Homo sapiens: one gene and its partner. The protein of the gene in region 2 interacts with the protein of the main gene of each other region in a pairwise test. Each region holds a gene or a part of one and is shown on either strand. Other genes may lie near its edges. The genes, in order: PINK1 and FEZ2.

Evidence for each region.
Region 1: the proteins of FEZ2 (region 2) and PINK1 interact in binary tests that used the Homo sapiens proteins (3 or more experiments, as listed by UniProt).

The regions. Positions count from the first base shown.
Region 1 is NC_000001.11:20,646,958-20,650,457, forward strand, and holds part of PINK1 (serine/threonine-protein kinase PINK1, mitochondrial precursor), read left to right. Parts: intron 1-1,357; exon of another isoform or gene 1,358-1,547; coding exon 1,548-1,675; exon of another isoform or gene 1,676-2,037; coding exon 2,038-2,274; exon of another isoform or gene 2,275-3,476; coding exon 3,477-3,500. UniProt on the Homo sapiens protein: Serine/threonine-protein kinase which acts as a sensor of mitochondrial damage and protects against mitochondrial dysfunction during cellular stress.
Region 2 is NC_000002.12:36,584,465-36,588,488, forward strand, and holds part of FEZ2 (fasciculation and elongation protein zeta-2), read right to left. Parts: intron 1-4,024. UniProt on the Homo sapiens protein: Involved in axonal outgrowth and fasciculation.

The DNA of each region.
Region 1 (3,500 bases), on a different chromosome or scaffold from region 2:
CAACCTCTGCTTCCCAGGTTCAAGCAATTCTCGTGCCTCCGCCTCCTGAGTAGCTAGGATTACAGGCAGGTGCCACCACGCCTAGCTAATTTTTGATTTTTTTTTTTTTTTTTTTTTGAGACTGAGTCTCGCTCTGTCACCCAGGCTGGAGTGCAATGGCATGATCTCGGCTCACTGCAAGCTCTACCTCCCAGGTTCACACCATTCTCCTGCTTCAGCCTCCCGAGTAGCTGGGACTACAGGCGCCCACCACCACGCCCGGCTAATTTTTTTGTATTTTTAGTACAGACGGGGTTTCACCATGTTAGCCAGGATGGTCTCTATCTCCTGACTTCGTGATCCACCTGCTTCGGCCTCCCAAAGCGCTGGGATTATTATTTTTAGTGGAGATGGGGTTTCACTGTTGGCCAGGCTGGTCTCAAACTCCTGGCCTCAAGTGATCCACCCACCTCAGCCTCCAAAATGTTGGGATTACAGGTATGAGCCACCACGCCCAGCTGGGAGTTGGCTTTTTTTTTTTTTTTTTTTTTTGAGACGGAGTCTCACTCTGTCGCCCAGGCTGGAGTGCAGTGGCATGATCTTGGCTCACTGCAACCCCTGCCTATCGGGTTCAAGCAATTCTCCCGCCTCAGCCTCCTGAGTAGCTGGGATTACAGGCACACGCCACTACACCTGGCTGATTTTTGTATTTTTAGTAGAGACGGGGTTTCACCATGTTGGTCAGGCTGATCTGGAACTCCTGACTTCGTGATCCGCCTGCCTCGGCCTCCCAAAGTTCTGGGATTACAGGCGTGAGCCACTGCGCCCAGCCAGGAACTGGCTTTTTAAAGGAATTTTGTGTGGACCCTTTTACAAATAACCAATTCTTTTTTTATTTTTTCTGAGACAGAGTCTCGCTGTGTTGCTCAGGCTGAAGTGATTCTCCTGTCTCAGCCTCCTTCACCTCCCAGGTTCAAGTAATTCTCCTGTCTCAGCCTCCCGAGTAGCTGGGATACAGGCACACACCACCATGCCTGGCTAGTTTTTTTGTATTTTTAGTAGAGACAGGGGTTTCACCATGTTGGCCAGGCTGGTCTTGAACTCCTGACCTCAGGTGATCTACCCGCCTCGGCCTCCCAAAATGTTGGCATTACAGGCCACCACACCCGGCAATAACTGATTCTTAATGCACCTGGTTCTTAGGTTTGGATTTGGGGTTTCAAATTCAAATCAAAGTCTCCTGGGGTATAAGGGCCCTTGGAGATCATTTGAACCAAGCTCTAGCTCCTTTGGTCTTGGGGACAGCTCCAATTACTAGAACATGATTTAAATTGAGCCACACAGTCCTTTGCCTGGGGATTTTGCAGCCTGTACTTACTGGAGGCATTTCCGTGTTCGCACAGCAGGCCCTTCTGATCAGCTCTCAGGCCTTGCTGACCTCCTGGGCCAACACTGAGCCATTAGCCCCTGTCAGCTATGTCTTGCTGGTGGCTTTAGTAGGGACATAGGAGGGCCTCTCAGAGGGAAGGAGGGGAGGAGAAATGGTCACTTTGCTTGCTCCTTCCCAGACGGCTGCCCCTGGCTGGTGATCGCAGATTTTGGCTGCTGCCTGGCTGATGAGAGCATCGGCCTGCAGTTGCCCTTCAGCAGCTGGTACGTGGATCGGGGCGGAAACGGCTGTCTGATGGCCCCAGAGGTGAGTCCCGAGTGTGTCATGCGCCATCGGCAGCCCTTCCCCCACATGTCCACTGAATGCAGGAGACTCGATGCCTTGTGATAACCCAACACCTCCATCTTTTCTGACCCATAATTTGGCACAAGTTCCTTCCCTGCCACTTTGCTTTCCTCCGGCGTTCCCTCATGTTCCAGGAGAATGCAAGTCCTGTCACATAAACCAGGTGGTCTAAGCAGACCCCTTCTGGGTCTGAGCCACAGCTCACTCAAGCTCTGGGTTCCTTGGGACAGAGTTCAGATTAGCCCATGGATCAGGTGATGTGCAGGACATGAAAAGGTTAGATGGGCGGGCAGCGTGATGTCTCACCCACTGCTTCTGAGCAGGTGTCCACGGCCCGTCCTGGCCCCAGGGCAGTGATTGACTACAGCAAGGCTGATGCCTGGGCAGTGGGAGCCATCGCCTATGAAATCTTCGGGCTTGTCAATCCCTTCTACGGCCAGGGCAAGGCCCACCTTGAAAGCCGCAGCTACCAAGAGGCTCAGCTACCTGCACTGCCCGAGTCAGTGCCTCCAGACGTGAGACAGTTGGTGAGGGCACTGCTCCAGCGAGAGGCCAGCAAGGTGAGGCTGTCCCCGGCTTCGAGGGGACGGTGTGGGTAGAAACCTCTGTTCTCGTTCCAGAGTGAAGGTCAGGTTTGGGCCAGAGCCACAGTGACAGATCCTCTGTGTTAGGAAGGTAAAGGCTAGTTACAAGAGAACAAAAAACAGATTTTAATGTAGGTAGGAGTAGGAGCACTAGCCACCACAGCATAGTCAGAATCCTAGCAGTTCAACTCCTGTGGCTTTTTTAGTTGCTGAAAAAGTTGTTCAGAGGCCAGACACGGTGGCTTACACCTATAATCACAGCACTTTGGGAGGCTGAGGCGGGTGGATCACTTGGGACCAGGAGTTCCAGTCCAGCCTGGCCAACATGGTAAAACCCCGTCTGTACTAAAAATACAAAAATTAGCTGAGTGTCGTGGCACACGCCTGTAATTCCAGGTACTCGGGAGGCTGAAGCAGGAGAATCGTTTGAACCCTGGAGGCAGAGGTTGCAGTGAGCCAAGATCGCGCCACTGCACTCTGGCCTAGGTGACAGTGCAAGTCTTTGTCTCAAAAAAAAAAAAAAAAAAAAAAGGCTATTCAGAGAGAGAAAAGGAGGCATTTTTGAGAAATGTTTAATGGAGATGTAGCTCATGGAAGCAGCTGAGAACTGATCAGAGAGAGATGGAAAACATCTCCTGAGAGCAGATCTGGACATTGTGAAATTAATATAAAGGAATGCAAAGGCAGACCTATCCGAAGCCATAATTGGAGTGGCAGCTGGCTCAGGGGCAGGCTTAGTGCAAAGAGCTGAGCCATACCTGCACCCCAGCACTGTTCTGCCACTCCGTTAACTGCTCTCTGTACGTGGCCTGCTATCTTGGTGCGCAGTGAAGGTTAGAACAACAGCTGCAACCAGTTATGAAATGATAGAGGAGACTACTTACCTGGTTCAAGGGACCAGATAGCTGTGCACAAGAGGCACTAGGCTTTCCACCCAGGGGGAAAGGCTATTTCAACAATGCATGCTGCCCCATGCAGAGGTGTACACATGGAAAAGCTTGGAGCACGGGCAGGGGACAGGCAGTATTTGTCACCTGAGTGAAGGGCATCAGTAGGAGATAGGGTAGAGGAAGAATTGGGTTGGGACCAGAGAAGGGAAGACCCTCACTAACAAAGCAGGCTTTGGGTTGAGACTGTGTTAACAGATGTTCTAGCTACAGCTTCCCTTCCTGTTGCAGAGACCATCTGCCCGAGTAGCCGCA
Region 2 (4,024 bases):
TGAAAAAACTCAGCAGATTAAAATGAACAAGGGAACATCTGTCTATCATCTACCTATCTGTCATGACATGACTATTCAGGTGTTGAATGGAACTGAAACTAGAACTCTATTCCTCAGGAAGGATTAGCACACACTGAGTTTCCAAAGAATAAATGGGCAACAAGGATTACGTAAGAAGCCACCATGTCATTCTATTACATAGTGTAGAACTAACATGATAAAATTTTACCTGGCAAAATTATTTATCCATGCAGAGGATATATGTCTAAAGCTGAGGACACAATGGAATGGATGTAGGTTCCTACTGCTTCCCTAGTTCTTCATAACATGAGCATCTGAAGTTTGCAGGTGAACACAGCCTACAGAGTAAGAAACCTGCACGTGAGAAGGGCCAAGGGAAGAAGCACTGGCACACTGACTTTCCAACATTAGGCTGGGAGAAGGGCCCCATCAACACTGCACGGTCCACCTACAACCCTATAATGCAACTCCAGGCTCCTGCGCAGTGACGACAGCCCTTCTCATTTTATTTCTTACTGCACCATCAGCCTAGCAAAGGCCTGGCCATGACCTTCAACACAGCATCATGAACTAAGAACACTGTGTGGAAAAAAGGAGAATCTAAAAGCTTCCAGGGAGGGAAAAAAAAATCACATTAAAAGGATCAGGAATCAAAATGTCAAGTGAATTCTCAATAGCAACAATAGATGCTAGAAAATAATCGATGTAACTTCCATGTTTGGAGAAATTCCATCCTAGAATCCTATATCCAGCTAAAACAAGTAGGCAGGGGCTAGGATAAAGACATTTTCAGACATACAAGTTCTGAAAAAATTTACCTCTCATGTGCCCTTTCTCAAAAAGCTACCAGGAGGAAAATGAAAAAGAAAAAAGATATGTGGTCTAATAACAAGTGACAAAGAGAATTCTCGTAATGATAGTAAAGTGAAAATCCCAGAATGATGACTGTAAAGCTACACTAGAGAGTAACATTCAGATTAGAATTTTTATTGCAGAGAGCATGGAGAAGAGGGAGAGGTGGGTGGGGAGGGAGAGCAGAAGGACTAGATAGATTACCTAGTGCGGTCCATTTACTAAAATGAGTTCTACGGCTCTATTGAGGCTGAACTGGTCAGCTAATTATAAACTAAATAAACCACAAAAAGGCAGGTAGTATCCTAAGAAAAAACCTAAGTAGAAAAAGAGAAAATGTAAACATAATATATCATAATGGGTCAACTGTGCACATTTAAATAGTAAATATAAATGATGAAGATTAATTCAACCCCAGATGTTATGTAATTACATTGGGAAGATGGGGAAAGGGAAGTTTTTGGGAGGGTATAGTGTCAGGGATTGGCAAAGGACAGAAGAGAGCTAAACCTTCACCCTCTGGGTAGAAAATAAATAAAGTCTAAAATTGAGAAAATAATATCAAGTAAAATGGCATGAGCATGTTATCTGCTAAAAGAAATAGCTGATATCATTTAAAGTGGCCACCTCTGGTAAGGAGAAATCAAGTGGAGCAGAGACTGCCTTTTCATTTAAGTCCTATAGTTCTAATTTACTTTTTAAACTATGACAGCTGTTCCTTTAATAATTTAATTTTTTAAAGAAGGAGAAAGATCAAGAGACTAGGCTCTTGATGAGAGGGGATGTATGATTTCTATACTGTAGAAGATGAAAATGTGGCACACTGTGATCACAAAGGCATGTCGATACCATGGAGTAGACCTACCGATTAGTTTCATCGATCCTTACACTTCGAACACTTCACACCCCCTTCCCAATCACTCTTCCTATGTTGCAACTTGAGGACCATGATTTTGTTTTATTTTTCCCCTTCTGGCTTATAAATACTAAAAGTTTTAATTTTAAAATTAATCCGGGGTGGGCACAGTGGCTCATGCCTGTAATCCCAGCACTTTGGGAGGCTGAGGCGGGTGGATTGCTTGAGCTCAGGAGTTTGAGAACAGCCTGGGAAACATGGTGAAACCCCATTGCTACAAAAAATTAGCCAGGCATGATGGCACATGCCTGTAGTCCCAGCTATTCAGGAGGCTGAGGTGGGAGGATCACTTGAGCCCAGGAGGTGGAGGTTGCAGTGAGCCAAGATGGTGCCACTGCGCTCCAGCCTGGACAACAGAGCCAGACCATGTCTCAAAAAAAAAAAAAAAAATTACTCCTAAGGAAGCCCAGGTTGCCATGGCTCACACCTGTAATCCCAACACTTTGGGAGGCCAAGGTGGGAGGATCTCCTGAGGTCAGGACATCAAGACCACCCTGAGCAACACAGGAAGACCTCGTCTCTACAGAAATATATTTTCTTAAAATTAGCCAGGCATGGCGGTACTCGTGTGTAGTCTAGCTACTCAGGAAGCTGGAGCGGGAAGATCGCTTAAGCCCAGGAGTTGGAGGCTGCAGTAAGCTATGATGGCGCCACTGTACTCCAGCCTGGGCAACAGAGGGAGACACTCTCTCAATCTATCAATCAATCAAATTGCTTCTGTGGAAGACATTATCTTTTTCTTATTTCTACTCTTAAAGGTATAAAGATGCATACAAAAGTCCCTGTCCTGAAAGAAATGCACATGGAAGGAGAAATACAGCACAGAAGATGTTCTTAAGCTGAAATGAATGATAAGCATTCTATCATATAAGTATATTCAAGAATGGCACCAGATTTAGAATAGGGTTATGGCCAAAACACATGAGTAATAACAGTAAACTATTATAATAAATTTCCATGACAACAGAAATGATCCCAGATCATCTTTCCAGAGAGAGAGCCAAGTCCATTCCCCACAGAGATGGCATATGCTAAGAGCTGGAATATCTTTCAGGCTTTGCAAACTAGCCCTGGCTGTCATGGGTATCATTATTCACTCCTCCCTTCAGCATTAAATGTGCCTTCTCTTTGCCAAGCATTCCCATCACTCCTTCCAATGCCAGGGTTAGATACAGACCTGGTGGTACTGTTTCCCTGTATAAAACTGAAGATACATCAAATGGAAAAAATGTGCCCACGTAAGAATTTGAAAGATACCAGTTGCCTTACTCTAAAAAAGACATATCAAATTTAGAAGTGTGCCATCTTAATCTTCAATCAAAGAAAAATTTAAAACTGCAATCTAGCAAACTAGTTTTCCTGAATGTTTTTCTCTTTTTAATGCAAAAACCATTCTTCTTTTGTCAAAAAAAATTTCTATACACTTGGTTTTATAAGTAAAATAATCTAAAGAATGCTTTCAAAGGGTAAATTTTACATAGCTTAGTCACGGCACGAACAGAGCACCAGGTGGCAATGGTAAATACAGTCACTTTGCCAGATTAAAAAAAAAATGCTTAATTATATACCATGTAATAGAATGACGTGATGACTTCTTACATAGTCCTTATTGCCCATTTGTTTTTCAGAAACTCAGTGTGTGCTAATCCTCCCTGAGAAACAGAGTTCTGATTTCAATTCTATTCATCACCAGAATAGTCATGTCACAACAGAGAGATGATAGGTGAATGATCACGTGTTCACTTTCATCTGCTGAGTTTTTCCAGGTAAGGCTGTTTTTTTTTTTATTTTTTGAGACAGAGTCTCGCTCTGTCACCCAGGCTGGAGTGCAGTGGCGTGATCTCGGCGCACTGCAACCTCTGCCTCCCAGGTTCAAGCAATTCTCCTGCCTCAGCCTCCCAAGTATCTGGGATTACAGGCATGCGCCACCACGCCTGGCTAATTTTGTATTTTTAGTAGAGACGGGGTTTCACCGTGTTGGTAAGGCTGGTCTCAAACTCCTGACCTTAGGTGATCCATCCACCTCAGCCTCCCAAAGTGCTGGGATTACAGGCATGAGCCACCGCGCCCAGCCAGGTAAGGCTTTTTAATGTCAGTACTAGCATTAAACTCTACGTCATTACTAATCACTGCCTTGGCCATATCATTACCGTGGCATTGAAAATAACATTCAAAAGGCAGCAAAAGGGAGCAACCTCCCAAGATGCAATCTAAGAACAATACAAGACATACAGC